Homo sapiens: one gene and its partner. The protein of the gene in region 1 interacts with the protein of each later gene in a biochemical or structural test. Each region holds a gene or a part of one and is shown on either strand. Other genes may lie near its edges. The genes, in order: SIN3B and RNF220.

What was found.
Region 2: the proteins of SIN3B (region 1) and RNF220 form a complex in vitro, tested with the Homo sapiens proteins (one study listed by BioGRID).

Annotation. Positions count from the first base shown.
Region 1 is NC_000019.10:16,859,079-16,868,048, forward strand, and holds part of SIN3B (paired amphipathic helix protein Sin3b), read left to right. Parts: intron 1-3,273; coding exon 3,274-3,481; intron 3,482-3,573; exon of another isoform or gene 3,574-3,805; coding exon of another isoform or gene 3,806-3,901; exon of another isoform or gene 3,902-4,565; coding exon of another isoform or gene 4,566-4,601; coding exon 4,602-4,718; intron 4,719-6,331; coding exon 6,332-6,570; intron 6,571-7,294; coding exon 7,295-7,478; intron 7,479-8,970.
Region 2 is NC_000001.11:44,630,822-44,639,791, forward strand, and holds part of RNF220 (E3 ubiquitin-protein ligase RNF220), read left to right. Parts: exon of another isoform or gene 1-1,333; coding exon of another isoform or gene 1,334-1,387; exon of another isoform or gene 1,388-1,391; intron 1,392-1,521; coding exon 1,522-1,564; exon of another isoform or gene 1,565-1,569; intron 1,570-4,416; exon of another isoform or gene 4,417-4,723; coding exon 4,724-4,767; coding exon of another isoform or gene 4,768-4,845; exon of another isoform or gene 4,846-5,208; coding exon 5,209-5,341; exon of another isoform or gene 5,342-5,679; intron 5,680-8,970. UniProt on the Homo sapiens protein: E3 ubiquitin-protein ligase that promotes the ubiquitination and proteasomal degradation of SIN3B. Independently of its E3 ligase activity, acts as a CTNNB1 stabilizer through USP7-mediated deubiquitination of CTNNB1 promoting Wnt signaling.

The DNA of each region.
Region 1 (8,970 bases):
AGGCAGAGGTTGCAGTGAGCCCTGATCTCACCACTGCACTCAGCCTGGGTAACAGAGTGAGAACCTGTCTCAAAAAAAAATAAGGAAGCTGAGGCTCAGGTCGAACCCCTCTAACTTACTCTAGGACAAGCACTCATAGGTGAGCTTAGCGTGCTGTTAGGCGGCAGCCAGGGTGCTCCAGCCCCAAAGCCAGCCCTTTGCATGTTCTCTGCCTTCTGGGCACAGTGGCTGCTGGGCTTCGGTGTGTATTTTTTTTTTTAACTCAGCATTTCTTGGAAGTGTTTCAGCATCAGATGTGAACCCATGTCCTCATTTTTAAGCAACTGCACCGCTTTTCCTTCCCTTACCAGGGTCTCTAACAATGGACATTTGTCTCTAGTCCTCCCTGTAAGTGGTGTTGACAGCAAATGCTCCTGAGTCTGCGACCCTCATGGGTCAAGCTGAGCCCATCAGAAGGCCTTTCCCTGGTGGTCTCAGGCATGCACGTGTTGGGGTGATCTTTTCAGTGGGTTTTCTTTCTTGGGCTGCTGAAGGTCTGTAAACGCCCTGAAGAACAGCCCAGAGCAGGATGGTGTTACTCTAGTCTCAGCCAAAACGGGGACTCCTGGGGTCTGTTTGTGACGTGGGTGGTGGGCACACGGCTGGGCTTTTTCTGTGGATGTGGAATGCACATTCACCTTGAGTTGCCTCCACTGGGCTTAGAATCCAGCACTCTCTGAGCCTGGGTCCCACCTGGGAAAAGGGGCCCCCAGGGGCTGTGTGTGGAGCTGGTGTTGGCACCTGGGTCCAGCGGGCACGTGACCACCCCGGGTTGGAATTGGGACTCTGCTTCCTACTAGCCAAGCGAGCCTCAGTGTCTTTGTAAAATGGCCATACCTCCCTCCTGGGTTTATCAGGAGGTTAGAGGGGAAGACAGAAGGAACATGAAAGGTGAGAATCTGAAAGGCAAGGTGCTGAACAGATGGGCAGTGCCGGAGCACAGTCAGCTGTTCTTGTTTCCATGTTTCAGCAGTAGAGACTCGTATGGGGAAGGGCGTTTGGGGAAGGGTCTGTATGGAGCAAGGTCCAGAATTGAAGCGGGCCTCTGCGTGTGCTTGACACGAGGCCTGGTTGGGTTAGGAGCGTTCACCACCATGTGGCGTTCCTCCGCGTGTTCAACCTGCGGTCAAGTGCTCAGCTGGGCTGGGCAGCTGAACACGGCCCAGGGAACTGCCCCTCGCAGCTGGCAGCCGCGTGGCAGCCAGGGTGGATCGGGTTGAGCATTCCCTTCAGAGCAGTCACGATTTGCGTTTATCCCAGCAGTAGCCTCAGGCATCTCTGCAGCTTTTTTGTTGGTCTCTTTCCTTCCTACGTTTCCATCGGCTTGTGGGTTTTCCTTGTGAGCAGGGTTGGCATAGGGTTCTTAAATACGGGGAACGACGGAGCCCACATCAATGAGGGGGACGTCGTTATGCGAGGGTGGGCTGGGTGGCTAGGTCACAGCAGGATTGTGGCACCAGCAGTCAAAGTAACTGCAACTTTTTTTTTTTTTTTTTTTTTTGAGACGGAGTCTCGCTCTGTCGCCCAGGCTGGAGTGCAGTGGCGTGATCTCGGCTCACTGCAACCTCTGCCTCCTGGGTTCACGCCATTCTCCTGCCTCAGCCTCTCCCAGTAGCTGGGACTACAGGCGCCCGCCACCACGCCCAGCTAATTTTTTTTTTGTATTTTTAGTAGAGACGGGGTTTCACCGTGGTCTCGATCTCCTGACCTCGTGATCCGCCCGCCTCGGCCTCCCAAAGTTCTGGGATTACAAGCATGAGCCACTGCGCCTGGCCATAACTGCAACTTTTTTGGTAGGATCTGATGTTACTGCTTAGAGACGGGGTCCTGCTCTGTTGCCCAGGCTGGTCTCAAACTCTTGAGCTGAAGTGATCTTCCCGCCTTGGCCTCCTGAGTAGCTGGGATTCCAGGTACACACCACCAGGTCTGATACTATTTTAAACAGAAATCCAGGTGGCATTGTAGGGTCATTTGCATTAAAGCCTTCCTGTTGTCGACCACAGCCATGACATTATGACTTTCAAGCTTGTGTCCAGAGAGGGGTTCACAGAGAGAAGTCTCCCTCATGAGAGGAAGACTGTGGATCAGAGATAGGCAAACTTGATCTCTGAGGGGCCAGATGGGCTTTGTGGAAATGACTCAAACCCCTCTTGTGCAGGCAGCCACAGGCAGTGCGTACACAAGTGGATGTGACTGCAGGCCAGTGAAACTTTATTTACAATGGGATGGCTAGGCATGGTGGCTCACGCCTGTCACCCCAGTACTTTGGGAGGTTGAGGTGAAAGGATCACTTGAGGCCAGGAGTTCAAGACCAGCTTGGGCAACATAGCAAGACCCCATCTCTACAAAAAAATTTTTAAATTGGCCCTGCATGGTGGCTCACACTTGTAATCCCAGCACTTTGGGAGGCCGAGGCGGGTGAATCACCGGAGGTCAGGAGTTTGAGACCAGCCTGGCCAACATGGGGAAACCCCGTCTCTACTAAACATACAAAAATTAGCCGGGCATGGTGGTGCATGCCTGTAGTCCCAGCTACTCAGAAAGCTGAGACAGGAGAATTGCTTGAACCCGGGAGGTGGAGGTTGAAGTGAGCCGAGATTGTGCCATTGCACCCCAGCCTGGGCGACAAGAGTGAAACTCTGTCTCAAAAAAAAAAAAAAAAAAAAATTTAGCCGGGTGTGGTGGCACATGCCTGTGGTCCCAGCTACTGAGGAGGCTGCGGTGGGAGGATCTCTTGAGCCCACGAGTTTGAGGTTGCAGTAAGCTGAGATCATGCCACTGCCCTTGAGCCTGGGCAACAGAGTAAGACACTATCTCTAAAAAGAAAATACCAAACCAAACAAAACACAGGCAGTGTGCAGACTGGCTGTGGCTTGCCACTCCCTGGCCTGAAGCCTGGCCTCTTCCAGTCAGGGAACATCAGGGGTTCCAGCTTCTGCCAGTTTAAGTCATCTTTTCTGGTGTATTTCAAAGCCTTACTGTGAGTATGGGATTAATAGGCACAGGAAGGGACCTGGTGTGTGACAGATGGGTGGGAGGCCCATTCATTCACACACCCCGGGACTTGCAGTGACTTCCTGTGTATTGGATTCTTCCGCCTCTCATTCGCATCCATGATGTTGAATTCTGACTCTGTTTAACTTGTAATGTCCACATGAAGCCATTCTAAAATCTCCAGATCCCTCTCAGAAGGCCCTGGGGATGACCAGTTACCATGTGTCTTTATCTTTGAAGGAAATTTCCAGAACTCTTTGCACAGTTCAAGTCCTTCCTGGGGGTAAAAGAGCTGTCCTTCGCGCCACCCATGAGCGACAGATCCGGGGACGGGATAAGCCGGGAAATTGATTATGCATCCTGCAAGCGCATAGGATCCAGCTACCGGGCACTCCCCAAAACCTACCAGCAGCCCAAGTGCAGTGGGAGGACAGCCATCTGCAAGGAGGTAGCGCTCCCTGGGGCTCAAATGTTCGTTGACATGGTGCATCCCCCACCCCTCCCCAGCAAACACCCGATACCCCCGTTATGAATGAAATGCTGTGTGCTCAGCCCTCCTGAATGTTGGGTTATGGGTGGTGCTGGGATGTGGCCCGGCAAAACCACCTGAGCAGAGACAACAGTGTTGTACCCTGCTGGTAGTTTTGGCAAAACACAGAGTGCCAGGGATAACGTGGAGTTCGGCTTATTCATCTGTTATTTGACTTAGGTTTATTGCTGCCATGATTCTGCTCTGTCCCGGGCTCACTGACCTCAGTGTGTTTCTGTTTAGCTTGACCATTGGACACTTCTCCAGGGTTCGTGGACAGACGATTACTGCATGTCCAAGTTCAAGAATACCTGCTGGATTCCAGGATATAGTGCAGGGGTCAGCAAACTCTGGCCCACGGGCCCTGGCCCGCTGCCCGTGTTTGTAAATAAAGTTTTACTGTCACACAGACACAACCATTCCTTTACATATTGCCTGTGGCTGCTTTTCTCACCACAAAGGCAGAGTTGAGTATTCATCTGGGATGGCCTGCAAAATCTGAGATGGTTGCTGTCTGACCCTTTGCAGAGAGAATTTACCAATGTCTGAAATGAAATCGGCCCTCCGGATCTGCAAGTTCCTCATCTGTGGTTTCAACTAACCATGGATTGAAAATACGTGGGGAAAGAGAAACCAAAAAATGACAATACAGCAATAAAGCGTAATCCACATTTTAAGAATGCAGTGTAACAATGATCTACACAGCATTTACATTGCATTAGGTATAAGTATTCTAGAGATGATTTTGCATAGGATATATGCAAATAGGATTCCATTGGACATCAGGGACTTGAGTATCTGTGGATTTGGGTCTTCAGGGGTGGTTCTGGAACCAATCTCCCAGGATACCAAGGGAGTGTCCACTTGACCAAAGTCATGTTTTTCCTTAAAAACTTTATGCACCTTCCCATTTGTATAAGGCAGTTGGTATTATGTATCAGGATGGTATTATGTATCTTGGTACTTTCTACACTGGCTAACAGTAAATCTTGGCTCCTGGGGCATGCAGCGTCATTCACGGCATTTCCTCTTGGTGCAGGTACTGAACGACACCTGGGTCTCCTTCCCTTCCTGGTCTGAGGACTCCACGTTCGTCAGCTCCAAGAAGACACCGTACGAGGAGCAGCTTCACCGCTGTGAGGACGAGCGCTTCGAGGTGTGTGTGCTGCTGTGGCCGGGTCCCCCGGCATGTGCCTGTTCCCCTTCTCCATGGGACATGCATCCTGATCCTCCTCCACTGCCCCAGTCTCGTTTGGAGGAGCAGGAATTGCAGCACATTCCAACAGCTCCTGGAAGCTTCCTGCCGGGTCTTGCTGGCCTTTGGGCTGGCTACCAGATGGCACTTTTCTTTCTGTTTAAAAATTTTGTTTGGGCTGGGCGTAGTGGCAGACACCTGTAATCCCAACACTTTGGGAGGCCAAGACAGGTGGATCATTTAAGCTCAGGAGTTTGAGACCAGCCTGGGCAACATGGCGAAACCCCATCTCTACCAAAAATACAAAAATTAGCCGGGCGTGGTGGCGGGCGCCTGTAATCCCAGCTACTCGAGAGGCAGAAGCAGTAGAATTGCTTGAGCCAGAGAGGCCGAGGCTGCAGTGAGCCGAGATCACACCACTGCACTCCACCCTGGACAACAGAATGAGACCCTGTCTCCTAAAAAGTTTCTTTAATGTAAAAATTAAATTTATTTTTATTTTATTTATTTATTTATTTTGCTTGCTCTGTTTCCCAGGCTGGAAGTGCAGTGGCGTAATCATGGATCGCTGCAGCCTTGACCTCCCAGGCTCAAATGATCCTCCCACCTCAGCCTCCTGAGTAACTGGAACCACAAGTCCATACTACCATGCCCAAGTTGTTTTTTTTACTTTTTTTGTAGACATGAAGTCTCACTGTGTTCCCGAGGCTGGTCTCACACTCCTGGCCTCAAGCGATCCTCCCACCTTGGCCTTCCAAAGTGCTGAGATTAAAGGAATGAGCCACCACACCTGGCTAATTTTTTTTTCCTTTTTTTAGAGACAGGGTCTGTATTGCCCAGGCTACATTAATTTTTGTAATTAAAAGTTTTATTGGCTGGGCACGATGGCTCACGCCTGTAATCCCTGCACTTTGGGAGGCTGAGGTGGGAGGACTGCTTGAGGCCAGGAGTTCAAGACCAACCTGGGCAACAAAGCAAGAGCCCATCTATACAAAAAAAAAATTTTTTTTTTTTTTTGAGACAGAGTTTCACTCTGTCGCCCAGGCTGGAGTCCAGTGGCATGATCTTGGCTCACTGCAACCTCCACCTCCTGGGTTCAAGCGATTCTCCTGCCTTAGCCTCCTGAATAGCTGGGATTACAGGCACACCACCATTCCTGGCTAATTTTTTTATTTTTAGTAGAGACGGGGTTTCACTATGTTGGTCGGGCTGGTCTCGAACTCGTGACCTTGTGATCCGCCCATCTCAGCCTCCCAAAGTGCCAGGATTACAGGCGTGAGCCACCGTGCCCGGCCATAAATTTTTTTAATTAGCCAGGCATGGTGGTGCACACCTATATTCCTAGCTACGTGGGAGGCTAAGGTGGGAGGATTGTTTGAGCCCAGGAGGTTGAGGCTGCAGTGAGCTTTGATTGTGCCACAGCACTCAAGTCTGGGTGACAGAGCAAGACCCTATCTCTTAAATACACACACCCCCCCCCCAAAAAAATCCTCTGGTCTCTGAGGTCCCAGGCTCCTCTCTGAGGCCTCTTGAGTTCCCCAGTGGCTGACCCCGTCCTGCCTTCCTTTCCATAGTTAGACGTTGTCCTGGAGACGAACCTGGCCACAATCCGTGTGTTGGAAAGTGTGCAGAAGAAGCTGTCTCGGATGGCGCCGGAAGACCAGGAGAAGTTCCGGCTGGACGACTCCCTGGGAGGCACGTCGGAGGTGATCCAGCGCCGTGCCATTTATCGCATCTATGGCGACAAGGCCCCGGAGATCATCGAGAGCCTCAAGAAGAACCCTGTCACCGCTGTCCCCGTTGTCCTGAAAAGGTGCCCTGTGGCGTCCCGACTTCCCTTCCCCTTCCCCTTCCCCCTTCCCTCCCCTCCCCTCCCCTCCCCTCCCCACTGCAGGGAGCCCTTGGAGAGCTCATTAGTGCTGTTTGTCAACAGGTGTCATCTCCAGGGGTGGTCTCTGAGGCCTAAGGGTGCCTTCCTGTATTTCCCAGTCTCCCACTCCTGAGAGGAGAGCACTGTGACCTTCTAGGACTTTCCACCTTGCACATAATACATCTAGACATCTAAATAACTGCTTTAAGAGTCAGATGCGACCACTACACTGTGGCTTGCATTTTATTTAATGCTGCATTTCGGATGCCGTCCGGCGCTAGTTAACAGGCATTTATCAAGTGGTCACTTTCAGGCAGGTGCAGTGCTTGGCCCTGGGATTATGCAGCTGAGTGAGGCAGACCCAGTCCCTCTCTTGGGACTCACAGCTGAGCAGGGGACCTGAGTGGTTGAGCCAACAGCCATGCGGAGAGTGCTGGGTGCCAGGGAGGAGGTGGAGGAACCGGGAAGCCGGCCACATTGGCTCTGTAAGGCCATCACGCCCTCCCTCTGACGTGCACAGAGCCCACTGCACAGACTAGGCTGGGAGCTGGCTGGGCCTGGGTCCTGGACCCCCAGTCAAGTCCCAGAGGAAGACAGGCCAGCCCTGGGATGCTTCAGGGAGGATGCCCTGGCTTGTCCCTGGTGCTGACCTCTCTTCCCCCCGCAGACTGAAGGCCAAGGAAGAGGAGTGGCGGGAGGCCCAGCAGGGCTTCAACAAGATCTGGCGGGAGCAGTATGAGAAGGCGTACCTCAAGTCCCTTGACCACCAGGCTGTGAACTTCAAGCAGAACGACACCAAGGCCCTGCGCTCCAAGAGCTTGCTCAACGAGATCGAGAGCGTCTACGACGAGGTAAAGCCTTCCCTAGCCCTGCCGGCCGGTGGGGGTGGGGTCCTGGCTCTCCCGACCGCCGGGTCTGTGCCTCTGTTTCCCTGGTGGTTAGGCAGGGTAGTGGCATTGCCCTTTCAGGGCTGTGTTGAGGCGAGGGTTCATGTCTCTGTGATGCCCAGCCTGTGGCCTGCCCTAGGAGAACCAGCAACTCTGCCATTGTCTATCTGTTTGTTTGTTTGGAGACAGAGTCTCGCTGTGTTACACAGGCTGGAGTGCAGTGGTGTGATCTCAGCTCACTGTAACCTCAGCCTCCTGGGTTCAAGTGATTCTTCTGCCTCAGCCTCCTGAGTGGCTGGGACTACAGGCGCACACCACCACACCCAGCTAATTTTTATATTTTTAGTAGAGATGGGTTTTCACCATGTTGGCCAGGCTGGTCTTGAACTCCTGACCTCGTGATCCACCCACCTCAGCCTCCCAAAGTGCTGGGATTACATGCGTAAGCCACCGCTCCTGGCCGACTCTGCCATTGTCTAGCGAAGTCTCCGTCCCTCCCGTGGGGCAGTGATGGACTTTGGCTTAGGTAGTGGGTGGCAGCAGCCTTCATTTCTTTCTTGCCGACTGTGCCAGGCACCGGTGTTAGCAACACAGAAAGAGTAATGCATCATCTGACCTCACTCCTGAACCTGACTCTGCTGCGGCATTATTCTGATTTTACCAGTGGGGAAACTGAGGCACAAGAGGTTGCATTTGCCTGGGCTGGTCGCAGGGGGCCAGGGCTCTGAGTCATTGGGTTCGAGGCTTTCGGCTGCATGTCCTCACTGCAGGCTCACAAGGCCTGAGTCATAGAACCAAGGCCAGCGGGGCCCTCAGGTTGCCAGGAGCTGGGCCTGTTAGTAGCTGTGTGTAGGGAGTGCCTGCTTGCAGGATCCTGAGGTGGGAAGCTTGGCAGGGTGCCGGGCGTGGTGATAGCCAGCTGTCGGGAAGGTCCTTGGACACTCTGAGGAGGTGGCTTAGGAGGGCACACTACTCCCCAGGCAGTGCCCAGATCATGGCACGGGCTGCGTTATCAGCCTGGTGCCCACCTGGGCAGGGGGTGTTGCCTCACCTGATTTGGTTTCTTGCTCCTGTCACTGCACAGTGAGCGGTCGCTCCTTCTTTTACAACACAGAAACGGAATCCACAGGAGCCGGGCTGCTGGCCCAAGGCCTCTCCCAGAGCCTGTGGGACTGTGGGGACCCCCTTCCCTCCCACCTCCCTTCCCGTGGGCCACCCTCGCCCCAGGCCCACCCACAACCACTCTGGCTTCCTCACTCTAGTCCTCGGCGATCCTCAAGCCCAAGACCCCGTATAGGTTCTGTGGGTCTGTGGTGTCTGCAAAGTGCAGATGATGAAGTAGCCCTGGAAATCCACCAATGCGACCCTGAGTTCCTGGATCCCTCCCTGGGGCTGGGGCTGACAAAGGGAGGGGCACCAAGGTTCATATGCAGATCTCTGCACATGCAGGTCCTTG
Region 2 (8,970 bases), on another chromosome or scaffold:
GAGAATAGGAGTGAGAGAAGAGTCTGGCAAGGCAGACAGGGAAGGCCTATATGCCTTGATGGAGAACCACTGAAGGATTTAAAGAAGGAGAGGGTTAATTTTGTCCAATAGAAAGATCACATTGTGTGTAGTGTGGAGGATGGGTTGCAGAGAGAGAAGCTAGAGACCAAAAGATGAGACGGGAACAGCTGCAAATTTCGAGAGCTCGTAAGATTATGTATGACTGGAGCACAACGACAACCAAGGTAGGTACAACCATGGAAGAACAACTCAGGGCTGACTTGCCTTTGCCCAGTGCCATGCTGGGCTCTGGGTTCACCCAAATAATTCACACACGGCCCCAACCCTGAAGTGGTCAGTCCACTGATAAAAACTTCACAAGCGATGATAACGGCGCAGAGATGAATGTACTCTTACACAAGGCAAAGCTATTTTTCAGTTAGACCTGGAAGGATGAGTAGGAGATACAGAGGTGGAGATGAGAAAATTAGCGACCTTTCAATGTACACTTTCAGGATCTAGAAAAGGATTGAGTGTGAGGGATGGAGAAAGTGGGGTCCAGGACGACTCTCAACTTTCTTCTGTGGGCACACCTGAGTAGATAGTGGCTTCCTCTTATGAACAGGGAACCCAAGAGGAAGGCCTCTGTTTGGAGGATACTGAGTTCCATGTTGGCCATGTTGGCCGTGTGGGTATGCAGTGCCTATGGGAGCTCCAGGGGCCGTGCAGCAGACAGCTGACATGTTGGGAGTCCTCTGATAACAGAACTGGATGGCCTAGGGGTTGGGCGGGGATCGCCCACAGGCGATAGGGAATTCGGACGCCTTGTCCCCTGTAAAGCACCCAACGCGATGCCTCTGCCCTAAGGGCAGCCGCGAGAAAGGCAGGCACAGGAGGCGGGAGCCGGGGCCGGGCGATGGGGCGGAAGGAGCCCCGCAGCGGGAGGGGTCGTGGAGTGGGGTGGAAGGACTTCGCAGCCGCTAAAGATTGGGTGGGTAGGCTTCACGGGCGGTGGGAGGGACCCCGGGGAGGCTTCTGCCGGTTGCTACCCGAGTACAAACGGCAGCTTCCTGGTCTCTGTCCGGCCGCCCCCGCCGCATTGTGAACTTTCACCCCCAGCGCGCGACGGCGGCAGATCACGTGATTAGGGCCAACATGGCCGCCGCCGCCGCTTGGAGCTGAAGTGCCGCCGCCGCCGGGCAGCCACGGGGAATCCGCCCGCATCGCCGCCCTCGCCGGCCGGGCGGCCGTGGGGCCCAGAGCGCCGGAGGCCAGGGCTGGGGCGGCACCGCGCAGCGGCCACGGGGTCCCGTTAGAGCAGCGCCCGGCGGCTATGCCGAGAGCCCGGAGCGGCCGGAGGAGCAGAGGGGCCGGCGGGAGGGAGGAAGTAGGTTTGTTTACGGGCTGTTTGGGGCGGAGCAGCTTTGGTCGGGGGTCCGGTGCTGGGGCGGGGGCCAGGACTGCAGGCCGCGCCTGACGCTCTCTTTTCTTTTCTTGCATCTGCCCGCGATCTTCTCCCAGACCTTTCTGCGAGTACGAGCCAACCGGCAGACCCGACTGAATGGTGAGTCCTGCCCGGCCCCTCCCTCCGCCCCACCCCCGGCCTCCTCCCTCCCTCCCTCACTGCCTGCCGCTCCTGGCTTGCCTGGGTCTCTTCGACTCTGGGGCCCGTTGGCTTCTTCGCAGTCACGGCGCCTGAGTATGTGCAAACCAAAGCTGCCGCTCTCAGTTTCCCCGTCTGTCTAATGGAGGTATGGCGCCCAGCTCTTGCCCAAACCTCTCTAAAGGCCCTGAAGAACCCTGGGGGGGCAATAAGTGCCGGAGAATGAGGAACGAGCTACACAATTCTACTCGGGAGCTCAGCTTTGAATTTGCAAACTGCTGGGACCTCACTATACAAACCTGCAGGGCGCTGAGAATGTTTTTCTTCCAGTTTTTAATCAGTGCCCAGTAGTGTGAATACAGCCCCTCTGCTGAGACTTGACAATACAGTGAGATCTGGAGTTCCCACGGCAACAGGAACTAACTCATCCCAGGGCTCTTTGAGTTATCAGTCGGCCCACATTTCACAAAGGTGATCAGCGTGGGCTCGACAGCTCTTAGAGGCCTTCTCTGAAAGCAGGCCGTGTATGCACTACCTAGCAGCCCCCCTTTTGGATTCAAACCTCTGGAGCATTCCTGTTTGCTGAATACAATTGAATGATCCTAGCTTTTTGTGCTTACTGGGGTGTGGTATCTGGGGGGTGGCTGTAAGGGGTTTAGGGTCTCTGGGTCAGCTGGTAAGTGAGAGAGGCCATGGAGTTCAAGATCCCCAGCTCTTATCACTTGGTTTCTGCTGCCAGGCTGAGCCCTAGTCTGGAAAAGGGAGAAATTCATGATGGGCTGGCGCCATGTTAAGCACCATTCTCACAACGCCTCTGAGAAGAGTATTACACACCTTTTGTGAATAAGAAAACAGGCTCTGAGAGGTGAAAGTGGTTTGTTTAAAAGTACACAGCTGGGATGTAACTGAGCCATGATTCAATTGAAGTTTGTTTCCCACCAAAGCCCGTGTTTCTCCAACCATGCCATGCTACCTCCTTGGCAAATGCTTTGATTCTTCCTACTCGTACGTAGCCTCTGGATAGAGAACAGAACTTTCCCTACCACACTTTGGTAAGCTTAATTCAGGATTTAGAAGATGAATGGGAAGGTGAAAACCAAACCTGCCTTCCTTCTCTGAGAATTTGCAGATGAAGCCCAGTCCATTGGGGTGCTTTCCAGGGACAACAAGGGATCATCTGCTGGCCTGTGTGTCCTGAGCAAGGAGCGCATCCAGTATTGTGCCTTTCTTGACCATTCCATGAGATTCGTTTCCTTAGTCATTGAACATTGTGGTATCATCAGCACCTTCTTCCCCAGGGAGGCATTCCCTTGGTGTAGGCATGGTAGGGAGGAAGCTTTGTGTTGGCACACTGCTCCTTACTACACTTCTAGAACTCTCAGGGTCCTTTGCTCAATGCCTTTCTGATGTTTCACGTCCATTCTCCATCCCAGCCCTGGCTCTAGAGTGTCAAGGCTACCTAAGTCTGAGATTCCAAGAGTTAGGGCAGCCAAAATGAAGAGTTCTCGATCTGTGTCCACAAAGTCAAGTGAGGCACTAGGACACAGTCATGTCACCTATAGTGAAGACACAGGAAAGTGAAGAGATGGACTGGGCTACAGACCAAGTTTCCTCAAACTCCATGCCCAGTTCTGGCAGGATGGTAGCTTTCCTTTTGGTTTGGGTCTTTCTGGGGTTGCTCTGTTTTGGAGTTGGAGTAGCTCCCTGCCTCAGGCTCACAACAGGCAGGAGCTGGAGCCCTAGCACACTCACTGGGACCAGTCTTTGTTGATGCTGCTCAGTTAGGAGGTCCCCTTGAAACAGGAGGGCATTCTAGGTTGTGAAGTCAGTTCTGGTTTCCTATCTTGCCTTTGCCACTTTTTAGCTACTTGGACACGTACCTTGATCTCTCTAAGCTTTGGGTTTCTTCATCTGTTAAAATGGGATAATGCAATCTAGCTTCAGCAAGTGGTAGTAAATGAGCTACCTTGGGTAAGGTACTTGGCTGTGAGCCTGACACACGGTAGAAGCTTAAATTGTAACATAGCAGCTCTCACCTGTGTTCCCCTCCTAGATTGCATTCATGAGCTTCCCGTTAGGGTCACTGTCCATGAGAAAGTTCTTCCTGGCCCTGCTTTGGGGAACCTTTCCCTCCTTTGCTGGCTCTCCCCACTCCCCATCAGTCTGGTCCCAGAGTAGCCATCTCTGATCCTGCTGTGGCATTCTGGAAGGGACTAGAGGGAAGAGAGTTTCTTGTTTTGACCCCTTCCTGCTTCAGTGACAGGAGGGCTACAGAGAGGGATTAGTGAGCTAATTAGAAATGATTGCATTGCTCAGCATTAATTAGCAGTGTTGTGGGCTTGCAGTGTGCACTTTGGAACTGAGCCCCCTGTGGGACAACATGGCAGGCAGCCCTCTGCCTCCAGGGCCTGCCAGCCCCTCTGTACTGATTAGAAATGATGGAACAGGTTCGGGTGGGCACAATAAGGGCTGCCTTCTCAGGGTTCCCTGAGCCTTCTGACCTGGCTGCCAAAGGTCTGACCCAGACCGTCTTACCTTTATGACTGGGCCTCAGTCTCCTCTTCTGTGAAATGGGATTAGTGGACCTCAGAGAAATTCTTCCTGATAAGATTCTAGGTGGGATGCTAGGAGCTGTACCTCAGGGCTCTTGGCCCAGGAACCAAAGAGGATTTAGCTGATGAGTGAACAGCAGGCCAAGTCAGGCCATCGGAGGGGTTAGGTTCTAGTCAAGAGATGCTCTTTAGAGTTGTATTTCCTGACACCAAAAGAGTTCATGGTCTTGGCCTTCTGGAGAGATACCTAGCAACATGGAGTGTCTTTGCTCACTGGATTTTTATTAAACACTGCAAATAGAAAGGTATGGGTAGACCTTGCACCAGCTGCAGCCAAAGAGTGGACTTACTCACTGGCTTAGTTAGCACCAGTCTCCTCCCCAGGTGCTCTTGGCAAAGCCCAGTCCCCAAAGGAGCAGGAGGTATTTCAAGATGAGGGCCAGATCAGGCACTGAATAAAAAGGCCAATGGCTGGCAAGAGGTCAGGATGTGTCAGCTCCACTGGGACCCTGGGGGCTGCAGTGACCGTCTGCTTGTTCTGTGCTTTGTTTTCGGTTTCCCCGTGCAGCTCGGATTGGGAAAATGAAACGGAGGAAGCAAGATGAAGGGCAGGTATGTCCCCTGTGCAACCGCCCCCTGGCAGGATCGGAGCAGGAGATGAGTAGGCATGTGGAGCATTGCCTTTCTAAGGTAGAGGGGCCATCACCACCCACCTTCCTTCCCCGCTCCCTTCCCCCGACACTAGCTGCTGACTGCCCCTGAATCTGTGGGCTCTTGGGGTCTCCATGTGGTCTCAGCAGCTTCTTCCCTTCTGACCACTGCTCTCTCCTTTTGCTTTCACTCTCACTCATTCCCTCCTTGGGCTCCAGCGGAAAACTATTGGGAAGAGGCCCAGGTCTTTGACCTCTAAATTGGTTTGCTTCAAAGGAGCCCTAGAGCTGAGGGCCCACTTGGCACACCACAGCTGGGGCTAGAGCTGTGCCTTCGTTGCAGACTGTGGGGAGCAGGTGGGGATGGCCTGGGCCCAGCATGATCCTGCTCTGCTCTTCACAGAGGGAAGGCTCCTGCATGGCTGAGGATGATGCTGTGGACATCGAGCATGAGAACAACAACCGCTTTGAGGAGTATGAGTGGTGTGGACAGAAGCGGATACGGGCCACCACTCTCCTGGAAGGTGGCTTCCGAGGTACAAGCAGCTGACACGTAGACATTGGCACTCTGGTGCCAGGCCTCTGCTGGGTATCCATCTGCTGGAAGCCAAGAGGCCGAGGCTGGTGGCTGGTCATCCATCCGTTCCACCACGTGGGGACTGCTGCTGGTGGGGCTCCTTTGTGACCGTGCTGCCTGCCTGTGATGTGCATATTAAAATGGATGTATTTGGGTGGGGAAATGGAATTGTGAGGCTGCAAGCTAGGAGTGACGAAGGGGGGCTCTCAGCTTCGGGTGATGCATTGAAGGTGACAGCCAAGCCGCGTTAGCACCTGCATAAAATATTAAAGGGACGGTTATGCATTTATCACTCCATCCCTCTTAAGGCTGATAAATGAGAATCCAGCAACCTGCTGTACACCTCCAGCACTGGGGGCCCTGAGGGCTTCCAGGCAAACACATTGGATTTTCCTCCTCCTCCTCTTCAGCCCTATGTCAGGGAAATCAGTTACAGAGGAGAGTGAGTTATGGCAAAATTTGACCTCCCATGAGCTTCATTGGTGAATCTAATTTTAGCTCTGATCCCATCCCTTCTCCCTGGGCGCCCTCTGCCCTGAAGCAAGAGGGGCCTGGGCCCAGCTGCTCCCTCCTTCCCTTGGGCTCTCCCCAGTTGCTACAAAGGAGTGTGCAGGGCCCTGCCCATCTCCAGTGCCCTCCCAGCTCCTTGGAAGAGCAAGGCTTGACACCCCCCACCAGGTCAGACAGCAGAATTGGTTGGGTGCCCAGGGTTAGTGACTTGTTAAACTCCCCAGCCTTGGGCAGGGGAAAAGGGGAGCTGTCTGCCTCTTGGCCTCCAGCTCTTCTCTCTTTCTGTGCACAAGCACAGCTGGTACTGCAGCTTGTGGTCATTAAGTGAGCCAATCTGCTTCCCGTCTGCCTCTCTCTCTGGGCAACACCTTTGGGAATACTGCTGTGTATGGTCCCTGGGGAATCTCACAGCAGCTGGGAAGAAGTTCTCTGCCTTCGTGGGGCCGTGCTACCTGGGCAGATGCTGAGGAGTGGTCTCTGCAGGGCCGTCCAGTGCAGACTGGTTCCACGAAGGGGCTAAGAGCCCAGATGAGACATTATGCCTCTGGGCGTCTCTCACATTACCCAGGTGTTTGGGGGCAAGCCAAAACATAAATCAGGAAGGTTAGTCAGACCAAACAGTCTCCCTGAGCCGGAGCTGGAGAGTGTTAGTTTGCCATTTCACTCATCCCGTACTGGAGCCTTCGAGTATCTGAGGCCCTAGAAGAGTGAGCAGCAGGGCTGACGACTGTCCCATGAGTTGGACACATGGGTGTCCGATGGCAGCCACACAGGGTCAGTTTCAACGTGCTGCTCTGGTTAGCTCTGTTGGCAGCTGCAACTGCTCACATCCTCCATTGCTGTGGCACCTTCTTAGGTTCCTTGGCACAGACCTGGACCTGATGGCTTCTGGGCACCAGACAGGGCTTATGGAGGATAAAGCTGCAAAGGGCCTGCTGATTTGACAAGAGTATTTCCCCTGTGCCGGGATGCACTTGCACAGCAGTGTGAGGGGCTCTTAGGCCCCGGGCGGGTATCCGTTTTCCCTGAGTGTTTACACTGTGAGGTTGTTCCTTTCAAGAATTCCTGAGGGGAGTTCAAAGGGGGCTTTTCTTTGAGCGATTTGGAGAGCGAGAATGAGAGTGAGACTTGAAGAGGGAACAGGGGCCGGAGGTGCCTTTATCTGCAGAGAATTGCTCCAGCTTTCCTGATAGAAGCTGCTGCCGCCTCTTAAACAGCTTAGTGCAGTCAAAAGACAGGCAGACTTGAAAGGCTGTTTTACAGCGAGATCAGCGGGGGCCACGAGGCAGAGAGCGGGGCGCAGTGGAGCGGAGGAGGCTGAGGCTCCTCAGTGGGGGGGCTATCAAAGGGAGGCCCTGGCTGATCCCTACTGCCTCTGCCCCCAAAACCCTGTCTGCAAAAGCTGGCCATCTGTCAGCCTACCCTCCCTGGCCAGGACTGATAGGCCCTAACTCTTGGGGGGTTGGGTGTGGCCTCGCCAGGCGGGCTGGTGTCAGTGCAGCGCATTGATCGCCCGCCGGGCGGGCCGGGCTGCAAGCCGGGCAGCGCGTGCTTAATGTGATTGAAAGGCAGTTAAAATGGCGGTGACCTTTTCAGGAGGAATTAGATTGCCTGCCAAGACCGGTTAGAGGGAGTGATAACGCCAGCTGAAGAAGCTGCCCAGCAGACTTCAGAGAGAAGGAGGCAGAGGCAGGATGAGCAGGCGAGTGGCGAGGCCCATTTAAACTGCGCTGTGCGTGCTGACAGAACAGAGATTGCTGTCGTTGTTAGATATGAAAGAAGTGAAGAATTGCAGATAAGTTCCTGTATCCGATCACCCCCATCCCTCCTCCCAGAGTAGGGCCTCTTCTTCATCCTCAGCAAAGCTTCCCACCAGGCCCCTGGAGGTTGGTCTGATGGATCAGATCGGTTACCTCAAATGTAATCTGCTGTGGGAAGCAGTGAACGGGCAAGAGTTTCGGTGGAGACACTTGGCTGAGGGCAACAGGCCTTAGAGATGGGGACCTGTGGTTACTGAGGAGGAGCTCCAGATATCTCAGGCCTGGGAGTACTCGGATTGATATTTTAGGACAAAATAAAGAAGCAGACAGAGCAGGTGAGCACTGAGGTAGGTCCCACTGGAAACAGATTTTTGAAAAGACTAAAGGAAATAGGTATTACTTCAAGAAAGTAAGTTGGAAGGAATTTTTGCTGCCTAGGAGGCACTCTGACCTTCCCAATTCTAGAAGAAATACTTAAGCTGTGTGTCTAAGTTGTTGATTGTCCTTTCAGAACCATAGATTTTCTAACCTGCTACTGCTCTTTACATAAAGGACAGCACACAGAGCCTAGTGCGCCACCAACATTCCACTAAAAGAGATCCGCAGTTAGGGAGAAAAGATGTTTTTCTTGGGTACCATGCCAAACCTGGGCAGAGCAAGGGGCTTCTAGGCTAGAGAAGCAGACTACAGGGGAACCTAACTATACAGCCCTTAAGACAAGCCTGCTTCCACCTGTAGTCTAAGGAGGTGTGTGACTAAGGAGCCATGCCTTTCCTCTCCTGTCCTCCATCCAGCTCCTGGATCCTGGAGAAGAGACCTATAGTGGTGAACCATGGTCCCTCCTGTGTGTTGGTTGCCAGTGAGAGTTCACCCAACTGCATTGGGGAGCCCAGAGCTCCTCACATCTGGAAGGGACATGCTGGAAAGAGGACATGGGAATGATTGGTTTCAAATAAGGTGGCAATGATGTGGGCACAAGAGTGGTGAGATGGAGAAATTTCCCAGGAAGCTTCACAGGAAATGGAAGCCTGCAGCTGTATCTTTAAGCCCTGGCGGTGACTGCGTTGCTAAAATCCAGCATGAAGCCCCTCTGAACCAAACAGGAGGAGTGGGTAGGGAAAAGAAGGGTGTTAAGACAGTCAGCAGTGCAGGGTCTTTGTCCTGCTCAGGTCCTGGCCTGAAGCGTTTCTTATCTTTCATGAGTTCCTTACATTTAAGCCGGTTCCAAGTAGCTGGATGAGAAGTCATGAAGCAAACAGGCAGAGCAGCTGTGGCACAAATCTTTTCTCTTCTTTTCTTTTCTTTTCCTTTTTATTTA